4 linked regions of the Homo sapiens genome follow. The protein of the gene in region 1 interacts with the protein of each later gene in a pairwise test. Each region holds a gene or a part of one and is shown in the gene's direction. Other genes may lie near its edges. The genes, in order: NFX1, UBE3A, LMNA and UBE2N.

What was found.
Region 2: the proteins of NFX1 (region 1) and UBE3A interact in a two-hybrid assay, tested with the Homo sapiens proteins (one study listed by BioGRID).
Region 3: the proteins of NFX1 (region 1) and LMNA interact in binary tests that used the Homo sapiens proteins (3 or more experiments, as listed by UniProt).
Region 4: the proteins of NFX1 (region 1) and UBE2N interact in a two-hybrid assay, tested with the Homo sapiens proteins (one large-scale study listed by BioGRID and IntAct).

Annotation. Positions count from the first base shown.
Region 1 is NC_000009.12:33,365,888-33,370,515, forward strand, and holds part of NFX1 (transcriptional repressor NF-X1), read left to right. Parts: intron 1-741; coding exon 742-887; intron 888-1,627; coding exon 1,628-1,732; intron 1,733-4,018; coding exon 4,019-4,091; 3' UTR 4,092-4,628. UniProt on the Homo sapiens protein: Binds to the X-box motif of MHC class II genes and represses their expression. May play an important role in regulating the duration of an inflammatory response by limiting the period in which MHC class II molecules are induced by interferon-gamma.
Region 2 is NC_000015.10:25,431,967-25,436,594, reverse strand, and holds part of UBE3A (ubiquitin-protein ligase E3A), read left to right. Parts: intron 1-4,628. UniProt on the Homo sapiens protein: E3 ubiquitin-protein ligase which accepts ubiquitin from an E2 ubiquitin-conjugating enzyme in the form of a thioester and transfers it to its substrates.
Region 3 is NC_000001.11:156,117,711-156,121,210, forward strand, and holds part of LMNA (lamin), read left to right. Parts: intron 1-3,500.
Region 4 is NC_000012.12:93,413,787-93,418,414, reverse strand, and holds part of UBE2N (ubiquitin-conjugating enzyme E2 N), read left to right. Parts: intron 1-4,628. UniProt on the Homo sapiens protein: The UBE2V1-UBE2N and UBE2V2-UBE2N heterodimers catalyze the synthesis of non-canonical 'Lys-63'-linked polyubiquitin chains. This type of polyubiquitination does not lead to protein degradation by the proteasome.

The DNA of each region.
Region 1 (4,628 bases):
AGACCCCTGTCCTGGAGGCGGCCAGGGATGTCACGGAGGTAGCTTTAAGTGGAAAAGTCTTGAGTTTAGTCAGAAGCCCCCAGCGCTGCATTGGCTTCCTCCCCCTTCCATCAGGGGGGACGGTGAGTAAGGACAAGATGGTTGCTTTAGCCCCTGTATCTAATGCTGGTGGTTTTCCTTCCCAGTCTCCTTACCCTCTTCCCATTCCCCTCCTTTCCTCCCTTCTGTTACCACTTCCCAGCAGAATATTAACATGAAGGAGAAAATGGAATGCATTATTCCTCTCCTAATTAAGAAACCCCAACAGATGTGTTTCTCTGCTTGTGTGTCTGTATCTGAATACTCACGATTTTTAAAGTAGAACATACTTTTAAAGGAAATAATATTTTCTTGTTTTGTAAGTCTTTAGTCATTTTTGGGGAATATCACCCACTCCCCAGTTATGGAACCCATCAGGAAGAACCATTATGCTGTCTACCTAAGTCGCAGTTCACTTACCCTTTGTCCCTAACCCTGTCCAGCTGCGACTGTTGTGGCTCACAGAGTAGGTGAAAGAAGTGCATCAGTGCCCATCTTCCCAAACCCCTCCAGGCTTGCTTGGCAGTTAGTAAAATGCTCTATGCTGTGGGCCTCTAAAATCACCTCTTATTGATCCCTGCAATTCTTGTGTGGTAAGATTAGTTGTAAGCATTTTGTTTTCAGAATGATATGATCAATCAGTCATCTTTTCCCTCAATACAGGGAAAGAATAGTAAGAAAAGCCACAGCTTCCCTCCCATGAACAGAGACCACCGCCGGATCATCCATGACTTGGCCCAAGTTTATGGCCTGGAGAGCGTGAGCTATGACAGTGAACCGAAGCGCAATGTGGTGGTCACTGCCATCAGGTAGGTCAATCCCGCCGTCAGAGGAAGAACTCCTAAGCAGGGCAAACTGGACCCAAGAAGCAGGGTCTGTCAATACTTGTCTTTCTTACTACCACTCTCCCTCTTGGAAAAGTAGAAGGAAAATCTGCTTCTCTGGCACTTCCCAGATAATCTAAAGGCCTGAGCCAAAGAGCAAAACCTATGCCTCGACCCACAGGGCAGATGCACTCAAAATGCACAAGTGTCACATCTGCCTACAGTCATAGCAGATGCTGGAAGCAGCATTTCTTCAGGCAAGGGGGCCTGCCCATCATATCTGCTCTTTTCTCCTTCTGTCTCCTGTTCCTCTGTCTGTCCTCTCCTTGGCTCTGTCCTCTTGGCATGGGGAAAACAGAAAGAATGCTGGACTCTGGTTCGAGGCATCCCCTGTGAATGGTGTTTTTGCCATCAGAGGAAACTGAAGCAATAATGTGACCAGGAGGGGACAGGGAGGACCTAGGATCACTCTCAGAACCTGGGAATAGGAAGAACTTGCCAGTGAAGAAAACAAGTCTGACATGAAGCAAGCCACGGGCCTGGCATAGGTGGGTGGAAGGGACAGGGGGTTAAATGCAGGTGGCCATGTCTGAGAGCAGACAGTTCATACCAGAGAGTGCTCAGTAGTGTCATAGTGCCAAAATCAAGGGCTGAGTTTCTAGCTTTCTGTCCATCTCCACAAACAATTCTCACTTTTCAATGCTTGGTGTTTTGACTTTTATCAGGGGGAAGTCCGTTTGTCCTCCTACCACGCTGACAGGTGTGCTTGAAAGGGAAATGCAGGCACGGCCTCCACCACCGATTCCTCATCACAGACATCAGTCAGACAAGTAAGATTCTCCAGCTGCTTTCCAAGGGGACCTGTCTGTCCAGAAAAGCTAGCAGGGGCTGAATTGTCCTGAGCTGCACCAGCCATTGGTGGCCTCCTCAGGCCTGGCCTTGGGGTACCATGTTCAAATATGTAATGTTTAGTTAGGGTATCAGACACGTTTGTTCCCACCAGAGGGGTCCTAAGTTTGTTGTTTGTAGTGCTTGATTCTAGAGAGAGCAGTCACTGGACATAATTTCCATGGTGTAGATGGTGACACTGGGAAGTGGATTCAGTCTGTCATACCAGATAGTTTAAGACTGAAACATCGTGTAGTTAGGAATAGTTACTCTGGGCCGGGCGCGGTGGCTCACGCCTGTAATCCCAGCACTTTGGGAGGCCAAGGCGGGTGGATCACTTAAGGTCAGGAGTTCGAGACCAGCCTGGCCAACAAGGTGAAAACCCATCTCTACTAAAAATATAAAAAAGTAGCCGGGTGTGGTGGCGGGCACCTGTAAACACAGCTACTTGGGAGACTGAGGCAAGAGAATCACTTGAACCTTGGAGGCAGAGGTTGCAGTGAGCCGAGATCGCACCACTGCACTCCACCCTGGGCGACAGAGAGACAGACTCCATCTCAAAAAAAAAAGAATAGTTACTCTGAAGATGCAAGTGGGTGTGGGGGTGAGAATTGCCGGTGACGGGGGTGGATAGTACTTTCTTGTTTTGCTCTGTCTGCTTCTATATGGTTTGAATAATTTTTATAACAAACATATTCATGATTTAAAGAGAAAAGAAAACCAAGTTGGCAAGGGGCAAGTCTGCCAGATGTTTTCTCAGACAGGAGCAGGGAAGGAGCTCTGAGAGTTGGGTGACTGTTGGGCTTTATTTGGAGAAACCAGAATTGTGGGCTGAAACCAACTTTAGAGCACTTGGTCATAGCCCCAGTTGTCCCAGTTGTTTGTCACTTGTCAGGGAGAGGAAGGGAAGGCAGGATGGTGCTCCTTCTCTGCTGCCCTAGTGTAACCAAGGCAGTGTGGCTAAAAGTTACTTCAAAGCCCAGAAGGAGAGGGGTGCCTACTCCTGTTCTGGCTTTCCACAGACAAGTCCTAGCAGTACCTCCTCTGTGATTCCTGCACAAAACCTCTGAAGGGTGGTTACGGCAGTTCACAAGGTCACCATGAAGGTCACAGCACTTAGTGTTCCTGTGGGACTGGACAAGAAGACAGCTAGGTGTTGCCCATTGAGCTCAGACTCAGCCAAGAGCGTCCTGGTCCCCAGGACCAGCCCCTCTCCACTCCTGGGAGCCAGGTGTCCTAGGTTCTGGTCAGCACAGTCTGCAAATCCATATGGGCGGTCACTTTGGAAACATGAGGGGTTTTCTCAGAAACTGCCAGAGTCGGGTCCAGTCCTGCTTAGACACAACCATGTGGAGTTATTGGCCCGTTTATCCCATGCTATCTTTTTTCTTTTTTTCTTTTTTTTTGAGATGGAGTCTCGCTCTGCCGCCCAGGCTGGAGTGCAGTGGCGCGATCTCAGCTCACTGCAAGCTCCGCCTCCCGGGTTCATGCCATTCTCCTGCCTCAGCCTCCTGAGTAGCTGGGACTACAGGCGCCTGCCACCACGCCCGGCTAATTTTTTGTATTTTTAGTAGAAACGGGGTTTCACCATGTGTTAGGATGGTCTCAATCTCCTGACCTCGTGATCCGTCCGCCTTGGCCTCCCAAAGTGCTGAGATTACAGGCGTGAGCCACCACACCTGGCCATCCCATGCTATCTTTTTAAAAACCCTTGGCTTGCTTTATTTTTGTATAAAACTCTATTATGGAAATGTTTTAGAGTAGAGAGAATAGTATTACTATCATAAATGCCCATGTGCCCATTACCAAATTTCAAAATCACCAGCTCATGTTTGTCCCACTATCAAAACTTCACAAGTGAGATGCTCGCTTGGCTTAAGCTGTTAACTGAGCATTCATTGAACTGTGAAGGCAGAGTAAAATCATCATCATATATGAAATCCTGTAAATAGATTGTGAAAGGTTACCTCTAAACTGTAAAGTGTAAATAGAGAATTTGTTATCTCACAGAATAAAATTCCCCATGTAATATGTAAATCTAGAAGGAAACACAAAAGTTAAAAAAATTGCTCACAAAGGGCAGAAGGAAAAAAAGTAAGACTAAAATAAAAATAAAATAAATGTTTAAGATTCACAAATGGTAAATCAGCTGATCCTTAACTTTCTGAAGTCCTGTATCTGTTTCCCCCAAAGAAGAAAAGACTGATCATTCTTTGTTTGTTTTTCAGGAATCCTGGGAGCAGTAATTTACAGAAAATAACCAAGGAGCCAATAATTGACTATTTTGACGTCCAGGACTAAGAAGATCATGATGCACTTAGATAAAAGAATGATTAGGTATAGTGGAGACTTATTTGCCAGCAGATAAATCATGCCCGTTCCCCTCTGCCTGGCAGAATCACAGTCTCACATACTGTCTTGTACTGACACATCCAAAGCATGAGTGTGTCAGAAATCCCTTGTCTATTCCTGTCTGTATAAAGTGTTTCATTATGACCAGATCTCTGATTGTATGGTCACTAGGTATGCAATCACGCATTCAAAGAGGCTCTTTACACCATCACTGTGATTGCTCTGAGAGTTGAGGGACTATTGGGCTTTATTTGGACAAACCAAACTTTTAGCCTGAAACCAACTTTATGCCACTAAGTCATAGCCTCAGTTGTCCCAGTTATTTGTCCTCCTGAAAATGCCTGAAACATCAGACAGACATTGCTTGCTTTACCCAAACTGATCAAAATCTTTAGGAGCACAAATGAATTTTTTAGTCTGAAATACCAAATAATGAATTGGTATACCATATCCGGAATCACACATGTTATCTTAAACCCAGCCATC
Region 2 (4,628 bases), on another chromosome or scaffold:
ATTTCTATTTCGATCATTTCTATTTCAATCTCCTCCCTCTCCCCTCCAAAAAAATTTACTGTGTAAACTGTGATAATACACTGTTTCTCTCAGTGTCAGTCAGTGGAATGATCCAGATTTATAGGTCATAGCAAAATTTTTCATCCCAAGCTCTTGAAATGATGTTTCCAAATGTCCATTTTCTTAAATGACTGCTAGTTATGTTCTCCAATCATGTTACACATATTTTGTTTAGACTTATAATTGTGTAGGTCTAAATGTAGAAACATTACATTATGTACATATGCAGCTGCTGAAAGAAAATTAGTTTTCTAATTTTTAGATCGGGGTGAAGACAAACTTTTAGAAGTGATCTTTCGGTAAAATACTGGATGAAGTCTTAGGTGCTCTTTTTATGTTGGTTCAGGACAAAAGTTTTTTGACTGCTTTTTGAGTTTTCCCCTCACTGCCAAATGTAAGGATAAAATGTAGTAACAAGACATCTTGGTATGTATAGTGGTAATATCTTTGGAATTAGACCCTAATTTTAATTCTGGCCTTATTAATCTTGGTAAGCCACAGTTTTGTCATCTGTAAAATGGGTTGGTGAAACTTCCCCAGAGTTGTGAGGCTTAAAGTATGTAAAACGCCTAACACGTAGGCACTCAATAAGTATTACCTTAGAAATCTTCCTATCCAGTTTTTCTGAATGGTCTGGAAGCACCTTGTATGTAGTGGACTACAGCATGTTATCCTTTATGTTGTTTATTTCTTTTCTCATTAGCTATGAACTTTTTAAGGCCAGGAATTCCTAGTGTTTACCAGAGAATGTGTTACTAGATGTCTTAGTCTGTTCTGGCTGCTATTACAAAACACCACAGACAGCATGGCTTATAAACAACAGAAGTTTATTTCTCACGGTTCTGGGGGCTGAGAAGTCCAAGATCAAGGTACCAACAAATTTGACATCTTAGTGAGGGCCCTCTTCCCTTGTTCATAGATAGCTAGCTGTCTTTTCACCATTACCTCATGTAGTAGAAGAGTAGACGGGGCTCTATAGGGCCTCTTTTATAGAGGCATTAATTCCATTAATGATGGCAAAGCTTCCCAAAGGCCCCACCTCTTAATACTATCACCTTGGAGGTTAGGCTTTCAACATGAATTTTGGGGGACACATTCAGACCACAGCACTAGAGCAGGCATGAATTGGTTATTGGTAAATCAGTAAATGATCAACTAACATTTATTAGGTTCCTCCTGTGGCTTCTATGAGCTGAGCTAAGTACAGGACCCACAAAGACAAGAAAGATGTCTGTCTTTTTTGAATGCTTATAGTTGAGTGACTTTCTCACATTTGTGTGTGTGTGTGTGTGTGTGTGTGTGTAAAACCCTATCACATAATGGAACTTCATTTTCCCATGCCCTTCCAATCTAAGAGCAGTTCTATGGACTCAATACCTCCTACCCACCAGCTGCTACTGTAAAGATTTACTTTTTTACTCCTTTTAAAAAGTTCAACCCTCTGGCACATGCATTACTTCATTCCTTGGTCCCAGCCCACCACCCCAGTATCTGGCACGTAGTGTATTAGTATTTGTGTGTGTGTGTGTGTGTGTGTGTGTGTGTGTGTGTGTGTGTGTGTGTGTATGTATATAGAATTTAAAATTTTTACTCCGGCAGTTGTCTTCAAATACTCTAATTTTGGGGGGCATGATTATCATTCTGTCTTCTGGCAGTACATGGATAGATGCTACCTGAGTAGGATTGTCTATGAGGTCAGCTGCTCCAGTCATTTTATACAAGAGGAAATTGGAGTGCAAAGCTTTAAAATGATTTTCTTAAAGTCACCCAGGTGTCAGAACCAGAACCAGAGTCCATGTCTCTAGTTCAGGACTCTGCACACATTGGCACATGTTCTGTCCTACCTTTTGGGATGAATAGTTATACTTGCTTTGTGATTACTCACCCACCTTTTTGGAGACATATGAGTGTTTTGTACACTATTAATAGAAGGCAGCCTTCACAAAATGCCATCTGCAGATCTGTTATTTCTTCTAATAAAGGAAATGATGTAAAATTACCTTAAATAGAAATAGTGTTAATTCTTCTGGAGACATATTCCATAATCCAAACACGAAATGTTTGAAATACTTGAAGATGCCATATAAATAAGTCCTTTGTAAAAAGATAATATTAAAAATTTTTGTTTTATAGAGATGGGGGTCTCACTGTGTTGCCCAGGCTGGTCTTGAACTCCTCAGCTTTTACTTTAGCTTCCCAGTGTGTTGGGATTACAGGCATGAGCCACAATACCTGGCCAAGTCCTTTTTTTTAATCAAATGACTTATTAATACACAGTTTCTTTGCCAGCTTTTGTTTTCATTTGCTATCAAAAATGTTGCTTAGTAGTGCTTTGATCTGAGTTATCAATAACAGGTAAATGCCATTATGGATAATAATTCAAAAAGAAGCTTATTAATTATTAGGCCTATCTGAGAGTGAAGTAAAGTTAGCATTTTCTTTTTGTTTATTTTACTTATTGTTTATTTGTTTAGAGACAGGGTCTCGCTGTGTTGCCCAAGTTGGAGTGCAGTGGTGCTGTCATAACTCATTGCAGTCTCAGGCTGGAGTGATCCTCCCATCTCACCCTCCTGAGTAGGTGGGATTAGCATATGCCACCATGCCTGGCTAATTTTTTTATTTTTTAATTTTTTTGTGGAGATGGGGTCTTGCCGTGTTCAGGTTGGTTTCAAACTCCTGGTCTCAAGCGGCTTGGCCTCCCAAGGTGCTAGGATTACAGGTGTGAGCTACCATGCCCAGCTGAGCATTTTTAAAAAATACTGGTCTTTGTACATGAGTCGTTACTATTTGATTCTAAGCCTTATGACTGATATCCCTAAAAATTATTTATAAAATTTTAAGTGCATCAGAGTCATTGAAATGGAATGAGCACTGTCTTTTGGTCTTGAGGTTGTTTTAACTAGCTTCGTAATGGTCATGAGCAGGTTATTTAGCTTTTGAAGCCTTCGTTCCTTCTTTTGTCAAATGAAAGTGATAGTTGCTTTGTTTTAAAAGAGTATGCTTTTCAAACGTGATCATTCTTGAAAATGTAGATTAAGAGCTTTTTAGAGGCCAAGTGCCATGGCTCACGCCTGTCATCCCAGCACTTTGGGAAGCCGAGGCGGGCGGATCACGAGATCAGGAGATCGAGACCATCCTGGCCAACACGGTGAAACCTCATCTCTACTAAAATACAAAAAAAAAATTAGCCGGACGTGGTGGCGCATGCCTGTAGTCCCAACTACTCAGGAGGCTGAGGCAGGGGAAACGCTTGAACACGGGAGGCGGAGGTTGCAGTGAGCCAAGATCATGCTACTGCCTGGCGACAGAGTGAGACTGCCTCTCAAAGAAAAAAAAAAAAACTTTTTAGAAACGTTGTTTTGGGGAATTTTTAGTGTGTGAATTCATTTTAAATATGTGAACTCCATTTGACATGGACAATGGATCTTAATAGTTTGTGATACATTATTCAGTGTATTAATCAAAAGTCAAATCTCTTTTGTAATTTGCTGTACCAGACCTGTTGTGTTAATCTGATCAATGGCAAGTGAATCATAAGATTGACCTGAAAGGAAAAGATATTTTTAGGGGACATAGAATCATATTGGATAAGATTATTCCTATAGTTCATTTTCAGGAAATCTGAACAGGAATCTCGTGTAAGGAATCACATGTGAATTATAGAAGAGAGTCTGATGTAAGACTTTATTTATTAAGGTCTGCATCTGTGTTTCAAGTAAGAGCATAGAGGTAGTATATGAGCCCTGAACACTCATACAAGTAGGATAAAATTTTTCTTAAAACTGTTGGCTGGACAGTGTAGAGTCTAATGCTGTGACTCTTAACAGTTTTGTGTGTTCCAGAAGTTCATCTCCTCAGGATCAATTGAGGTTAGTCTAGCACAGACTTTAGTTATAGAAACCAAACATGAGAAAAATTTTTTGACCCATGTCTTCGTAGCATGCAGGCTTGGTAGCTCTTTCCTAGTTCTGGATGTGTGCCCGTTGTATATACTTTCAGCAATTCAGGATGTTCCTTTTCATATTTAAGACAAGCACTCTTGCATACAAATTACATAGCTGTGGGCTGAATGAAGATGCTACCATTGCTGTACTTCTACACAGGTTCTTTTCATGTAATGAAATCAGAAGGGATGGCTTTTCCATTTCAAGCTTCTGTTAATAAGTAGTCTTAGAATTGCCTTTGTGTACTGTAGCCAACACCCCAACTCATATATTTTTATAATCTTTGTGATGCAGAATAAATTCTGAAACTTTCCACCTCCTAATTAAATATAGAAATACTGAAAACAATAAAGCACCATGTATTCACTATGGACATATGTCACATTTTGTCACTTTCTTGCACTCTTGTAATCCCTCTCTAAAGCTCATGTTAAACTCATGTTCTTTATTTTCTTCTCAGATGATTCCTTTGGCACTGCATGTAACAGTACAGGAATTTCTTCCTTTCGTACTTCCAACAAATACTTTTTTGTCTCTTAACAGATGTGAACCATAATGCTGTTCTTTAGAAAGCAAAGGATGAAGTGCACAGCAGTGTTTTCTATATAAAGCTAATGGGTCATA
Region 3 (3,500 bases), on another chromosome or scaffold:
TTGTAGAGATGGGGTTTTGCCATGTTGCCCACAGTCTTGAACTCCTGGGTTCATTCTGCTGAAAGAGACCACACCTGTCCTTTTCTTTATTTTTATTATATTTTTCAGAGACAGGGCCTTGCCCTGTTGCTCAGGCTAGAGTGCAATGGTACAATCATAACTTGCTGCAGCCTGGAACTCCTCCTGGGCTCAAGCGATCCTACCGTCTCACCTTCCGGAATAGCTGAGACTAAGGGCAGGCACCACCACGCTTGGCTAATTTTTTTTTTTTTTTTTTTTTTTTTGCTTTTTGTTTGTAAAGATGGAAACTTGCTATGTTGCTCAGCTGGTTCCGAAGTTTTGGCCTCAAGCAATCCTCCTGCCTCGGCCTCCGGAAGCACTGGGATTACAGGCATAAGCCACCAGGCCTGACGCCAGGCCTGTCTTTTTTCTACTAGTGATATGAACAATTTAGTTAGCAAGACAGATAGGAAGCAAGGAAGGGGAGACCCAGAGAATTCGTTGCATTCTAAACTAGTCCACTCATCTACCAAAGCCCTGTGAAGGACATTTTTAGCAGTTTTAGCAGTTTTCTGGTCAAAACTTTGATCGAGAAACAGATTGAGTGGATTCGATATTCTCTTGCTCACCCAGCCACGCCAGTTTGTCTCCTCTGCCTCCTAGTGCAGCTGTCCAGGCCTGGGACACCAGGCGGGTATGTGCGCATGTGGGGCAGGGCGGAGGTGGTGTGTGTACTTGTTATATTTAGCCACCTCCCTCTGTTCTCCCCCACTGATCCTGGCTGGAAAGGCTGGGCTTCCGGAAAAGAGAGGTGGATTTGCACACCTGGATCCCAAGCTGATAGAAAGTGGGGTGAAGACAAAGGGGACTCAGACTGGGGTGTCTGTCCTCTTCTATGCCCACAGTAGGAGGAGCCAGGATTGGTTACTCCCTGCTGGGTCTGCTGTGCTCAGAGTGAGGTAGAGAAGTGGGTAGAGTAAAGAATTTGGGAGAGGAAAAAAGGCATTTTCCCAACCCCTCCCACCAAAGCCTAGAGAGAAGGTGTTGTCTGGTTTAATGTTTAATTAGAGCTCAGAGTTCAGGGCCAGATTTGGAGTTGGGATGGAAAGTTGTTTTTAAGACCCTGTAGCAATTTTTGACCCAGCCTGGGTACCTCAACCACACTCAGGAGTTTGGGGGACCTTCTGTTGGGCTGGATTATAGGCTCCAAGAAGAAACCCCTTTCGCCAATACTCTCTCTCTCTTCTTTTTTTGAGACAGGGTCTTGTTCTGTTGCCCAGGCTGGGGTGCAGTGGCATGATCACAGCTCACTGCAACGTCAGCCTCACAGGCTCTGGTGATTCTCCCACCTCAGCCTCCTGAGTAGCTGGGATTACAAGTGTGTGCCACCATGCCCAGCTAATTTTTTTTTTCTTTTTTTTTTTTTGAGACGGAGTCTTGTTCTGTTGCCAGGCTGGAGTGCAGTGGTGCGATCTCGGCTCATTGCAACCTCCACCTCCCAGGTTCAAGCGATTCTCCTGCCTCAGCCTCCCGAGTAGCTGGGACTACAGGCACATGCCATCACGCCCAGTTAATTTTTGTATTTTTAGTAGAGTTGGGGTTTCACCATGTTGGCCAGGATGGTCTTGATCTCTTGACCTCGTGATCCGTCCACCTTGGCCTCCCAAAGTGCTGGGATTACAGGTGTGAGCCACCGTACCCGGCCACTAATTTTTATATATTTTGTAGAGATGGGGTTTCACCGTGTTGCCCAAGCTGGTCTCGAACTCCTAGGCTCAAGTAATCCACCTGCCTTGGCCTTGGCCTCCCAAAGTGCTGGGATGTATAGGCATGAGCTACCGCACCTGGTACCCCCTGCCCCTTCTCTGTCTCTTTCTAGTCTGTAGCCCAAGGGATTTGGATACCCAAGTGCAGGCAGAATGGGAAGGTTGTAAGCACCAGGGAAGCCTGTCTGGAGTCCAGGCTTGCAGCTGGGCCCCACCCCAGGCAAGGCAGCTGGGTGGATGACTCAGATGCTGCCCCCCTCCCTCCCACCCTGGTGGCTTTACAGAAGACAGCAGGAGACAGGGTGGAGACAGCAGTTGTCTTAAAGGGAGGAGTGGTGGTCTGAATGTCTACCTCTTCTGCCCCCCTCCCCATTGCATCCTGGAGTCCCTTGCCTGGCTCCTTCCTGAGACCCTCTGGTGGTGTCTGGACACATAGCTCTCTCTGGACAGGTAACATGCACAAGTAATTAGAATCCAGAGTTGAGTTCAGAGTTATGGATTGGGCTGCAGGATAGTGCCAGGGTCTGTGCCTTCCCATGTGAAACTGATGGAGGAAGGCTGAGTCAGAAGTGGGGAGATCCGAGGCCCACAAAGCAGAAGCGCTACTTCCACTCCAAAAAGGCCCTGGTGCTTGACAACTTCCTGGATTGCCCACTGTTGCAGCCCCAGTGTGGACAGGCAGGGAGATGCAGGCTCCAGTTCATGTAGGCTCTGATCAAGACAAGAACAGCAAAGGCCACAGAGGCACAGATGCTTGTCCCATGTCACACAATAAAGGGGTCAGCACTTGATCACAGGCCTTATGACTTCCAGCTGGGTGTGCTCTTACCATTAAGCCTCACTTCTCTAGCTTGGGGGACAGGTTGGAGGGAGGATCTAGAGGGTGAGGTAAGGTGAAGTCAGGTAGCTGAGGCTCACTTCTGCAGCCTGGAAACTCTGCTCTGGGGCCAGTGACACCTTAGTGCTCTATGGCCATACTTCGTGGCTCATGCCTGTAATCCCAGTGCTTTGGGAGGCTAAGGCAGGAGGATCACTTGAGGCCAGGAGTTTGAGACCAGTCTGGGCAACATAGCAAGACCCCCTTCTGTACAAAAAAATTAGCCGGTCAACACCTGTAGTCCAGCTGCTTGGGAAGCTGAGGCGGGAGGATCACCTGAAGCCAGGAGTTTGAGGCTATTGTGAGCTATGACTGCACTACTGCACTCTAGCCTGGGAGAGAGAAAGACCCTGTCTCTGAAAAAGAAAAAAACAAAACAAAACTCTGCTGTCCTGCAGGGCCTGTTAGCATATGATCGATAGCCTTTGCTCCAGCCTATACCTGGACCCAGGACCCCTGCCAGCCCCTCAATCGTGAGACGGTCAGAGCTCTGGGAGGCTGGTGATTCTTGTCTTGAGACTATCTTGAGACTTGTCATGGGAATTGTCCACCCGGATTGAAAGGAAGCTGTGCCTTTTGGCAGACCCATTAGGTTAATGGGGTTGGAGACCTTTGAGGATGCATGGGCCCTGGGCTTTATCTGAGGGTATCTCCTGGTGTTACCTCTCCAACCCTCCACCACCAAATCCATTCTTTTTTTTTTTTTTTTTTTTTTTTTGACAGTCTCGCTCCCTGGCCCAGGCTGGAGTGCAGTGGCATGATCTTGGCTTACTGCAATCTCCACCTCCCAGGCTCAAGTGATCCTCCCACCTCAGCCTCCCAAGAAGCTGGGACTATAGGCACGTGCCACATGCTCG
Region 4 (4,628 bases), on another chromosome or scaffold:
AAAATGTCCATTGATGATAATTAACTTTTTGTTTTGTTTTGTTTTGTTTTTAAGAGACAAGGTCTCACTATCGCCCAGGCTGGGGTGCAGTGGTATGATCACAGCTAACTGTAACCTTGAACTCCTGGGCTCAGGCAGTACTCCCACCTCAACCTCCCAAGTACGCTAGGACTATAGTCATATGCCAGCATGCCCAGCTAATTTTTTTAGTTTTTTGGTTTGCAGAGATGGGGTCTTGCTATGTTGCCCAGGCTGGTGGTAACATTTTTTAAATGCTCACTTATTGGGCCAAGTGTGGTGGCTCACGTCTGTCATCCCATTGCTTTGGGAGGCCAGGGCGGGAAGATTGCTTGAGGCAGGAGACCAGCCTGGGCAACATAGAGAAACCCATCTCTACAAAAAAAGTGATAAATAAAAATGCCCACTTATATATATAGAGGGTGAACTTGCAGATTCTCATAAGTAACTTACAGTTGTGTACATAATGAAGAATTGACTTGCTTTATTAGTGATCCCAAAAAAGGAGCCCGTTTGTTTTATCTTACAAATTTTTCATAATTTTTTTCTTTATTTAAATTTTTTTTCTATAACACACAACTTTGTCCAGAACCCTGTTTGTTAATATTTTAGAATCGCTTAAAGATGTAGTGACAGGTTGGAGTTTACAGAGTAGGTATCATTGAAGCATCACTCAGTTTTTTAACACTTATTTTTCAGTAATGAAATTGGCAGTTACTGAGTTATCAGACAGCTCTTGTTTGAGATGAGCTAAAAGATCTACAGTTGATATTACTGGTCATATATTGCAATTTTGTGTTTCAGAGAATATTCTAAAAAACCTAATCACTGTAGACAGGATGCACTGGGATATAGATAGTTACTAACTGGACCAACTTTTCTCACACACAAATTAGCACTTTTTCTAAGAATACTGTTTATTACCCCAAAATTTTACTGTACATACTCCAATCATTGCCTTGCAGAAGAGCATCTAAGACCTGTCATTGCTTCGTACTGAGCACAAATTATTTTTCAACTTAAAAATAAGAGTCCTGGTTAATAGAGATAGGTTGACAGAATGTCAGTTGTTATAATTGACTAACTACAGTATAGTTTACAGTAGTGTGAGTCTAGGGTTTGCTCTTCAAGACCCAGTAGATCTGTTGATAATTAGATCAATTTGATGTGATATTTGATTCCTTTTAAAAATATTTGTAGCATTAACTATTGTATGCGTTCTATAAGATGAGATACCTTCCTTTAGACTTAATTTTGTGGACATTTAAATCCATACCCTATTCCTTTACCAACTTACCTGTCTATTTTAGTAACTAACTTCCTGAACATAGTCTACATTAACTAATTTCCTGAACATAGTCTACAGTGCTTTCTATTATGCATGGCCCTAAACTCACTTCTGTTTGGGATTCAATCCTTGGACTGCTTTTAAACATAATAGAATCACAAAATTCATTTAAGGGTTATTCTGTTTTTCTGTAAACAACTATGGCCTTCCTATGTGATCTCATTTGTCAACTTTTTTTTTTTTTTTTTTTTGGTAGTGATGGGGTCTCACTATGCTTGCCCAGCTTGGTCTGGAACTCCTAGCCTCAAGTGATTCCCCTGCCTGCCTCAGCCTCCCAAAGTGCAGGGATTACAGGTGTGAACCATGGCATCCCACCTGCAATGTAAATTATTTGTGCCAAAAGATAGATAAGGCCGGGCGTGGTGCCTCACGCTTACAATCCCAGCACTTTGGGAGGCTGAGGCGGGCAGATCACTTTAAGTCAGGAGTTCGAGACCTGCCTGGCTAACATGGTGAAACCCTGTCTCTGCTAAAAATACAAAAATTAGCCAGGTGCTCACTTGGACCCAGGAGGCAGAGGTTGCAGTGAGCCAAGATCGTGCCACTGCACTGCAGCCTGGGCAAGAGAGCGAGACTTGTCTCAAAAAAAAAAAAAAAGATAGATAAGTGAAACAGTAGGAATTTTAGCCCTTTACTTCTTCACTTAAAGAAATCATACTGTACTCTGTCTTTCCACCAAAGAATAGTGTAAAACCAGAAGGTATTTTAGTTAGTCATGTGTTGAATAGTGGCCGGAAAGATTTTATTTCCTAGCCAGTTTTTGCCTTTTTAGGAAAAAAGTTGACATCAGTTTCTGTGGTTGAGACTTTTTCAGATGCTGCCATTTCAGACTTGTTTCATTTAGTTTGGATTTTATTCCTTTTTTCCCCTCCCACAGTTTATGCTGTGGGTTTGTTAGGGAAACCAACAGTTTAGTGAAATAATTATGCATGTTTTTGTGTCAGTCCATTAGAACTTGAGAGCAGCATATATTATAAGGACTATTTCAAAATGTTTTCTACACACGAAAGCTTATTTTAGAATGTGTTCCAATTAAATCTAGGCTTGATCAGGTCACATGATGTGCTTAATATGTACATTCTTTACAAAGAATATCTGATTTTGAGGGTGAACTGAAGATGAGAAAGTAAATGCCATACCTATCTCTGCCACTGTGTATTGAGAGTGATTTTGAAGCTATTTTGGGATACGCTTTTGGAGGCCTTTCTGTAGCTTTTTATAGTAGATACAGAGCTGCTACTACTTTGTGTAACTGGTGAGTGGTGGATTGGGACTCTTGGGCCCTGGCTTTCTTTTTTTTCCAGTCACCCAATTTATGGCTTTCTAAAAACATGAAGACCTGGGGTAAAATTAAAGGATGGAGGTGAGGAGAGCCCAGAATTCAAGGAATTTTACCATCCAGTTATTTTCTCATTTTTCTACTCCTGCTATTCATCCCTAATATCTTAACTTTTTTCCTAAAAAATGAAGACCAGCCTCTTTTGTTCTGGTCACATGTTAAAGGACTTCCCAAGGTCAGAGGCTTCATTATTGCCTCTTGAGCTTTTTAATACTCTAAAAATGTTTTAGTTTGAACCTAAAGAACATGTCAGTTTCTCACTTGCTCTTACATCGCCATGATCAAAACAAAAAACTAGTCTTAAAATACCAGAGACATTACCTAAAATGGCCATGGGTTTAATTAACACATTTTGGGGAAGCATTTGATTTGTATTTACATCTTATGACTATTTCAGTATATTACTGTGCTGAGAGAGAAGTTATTTGTTGTTGTTGTTTTTAACGTATGCCCTGTAGCTTGTGGAATGAAACAGTTTATGATGTATTTTTTTTTAGGTGAAGGCAGTGTAAATAAAATGTTCTCATTTATTGTTTTTCATACCTAAAAGCTTATTTAAATATGAACATTTTTCTGGTTAAAAATAAATATAAGTAGAAGTTAGACTATTTTTCCCCATACCTGAGTGGCTCCTTTTGTTTTCCTTCCATAATGTGCACATCCTGCCTTGAAAATAACCCTGCCTTAATGATGTTAACGATGAAATTCTGATCGTTTATTTCCCTCTTTTCATAACATCAAATAGATTCAGAATTCAGTAAATATTAATTGAATATCTATTGTGCCAGGCAGTGTTCCAAATGCTGAGGATATAGCAGTCCATAAAATAGACTCAAATCCATCCTCTCATGGAGCTTAAATTCTGAACAAAATAAGTAGAAATGAGATTTGTTAGTAGTGCTGTGGAGATAAAGCCAGGGAGTGGGGATAGGGAGTGTGCAGGGTAGGGTTGAATGGGGTTTGCAATTTCAGTTATGATGGCTTCACTGAGAAAACATGAAGATCTTAGGAGCTGAGGGAGCAAGCCATATGGATATCTTGGGGAGGAAGAGGAAGTACAAAGCCCTTGAGGTGAGCGGATGCCTGGCACGTTGAAGAACTACAAGGAAGCTAATTTTTGTCTGGAACAGAGAAGGTTAGGGGATGGAGAGAGAACAGCTGAAGATAAGTCAGAGAGGTAGGTGGAGTGAGGGCATCATATAGAGCGTCTTTTGGGGGCCCATTACAAGGACTATGACTTTTTTTTTTTTTTTTTTTTTTTGAGACGGAGCTTCGCTCTTTTGCCTAGGCTGGAGAGCAATGGCATGATCGGGGCTCACCGCAACCTCCACCTCCGGGGTTCAAGCGATTCTCCTGCCTCAGCCTCCCAAGTAGCTGGGATTACAGGCATGCGCCACCATGCCTAGCTAATTTTATATTTTTAGTAGAGGTGGGATTTCTCCATGTTGATCAGGCTGGTCTCGAACTCCTGACCTGAGCCGATCCACCCGCCTCGGCCTCCCAAAATGCTGGGATTACAGGTGTGAGCCACCATGCCCAGACTTTTTTTGAGATGGAGTCTCGCCCTGTCACCCAGGCTGGAGTGCAATGGCACGATCTCAGCTCACTGCAACCTCCGCCTCCTGGCTTCAAATGATTCTCCTGCCTCAGCCTCCCGAGTAGCTGGGATTACAGGCACGTGCCACCATGCCCGGCTGATTTTGTATTTTTAGTAGAGATGGGATTTCTCCATGTTGATCAGGCTGGTCTCGAACTCCTGACCTGAGGTGATCCACCCGCCTCGGCCTCCCAAAGTGCTGGGATTACAGGCGTGAGCCACCGCACCCGGCTCAGGACTATGACTTTTAAAGGGTCTGTGGATAATAGACCTGCGAGGGAGGTAGTGAGGTCAGAAGCAGGAAGAACAGGTTAGGAGGCTGTTGT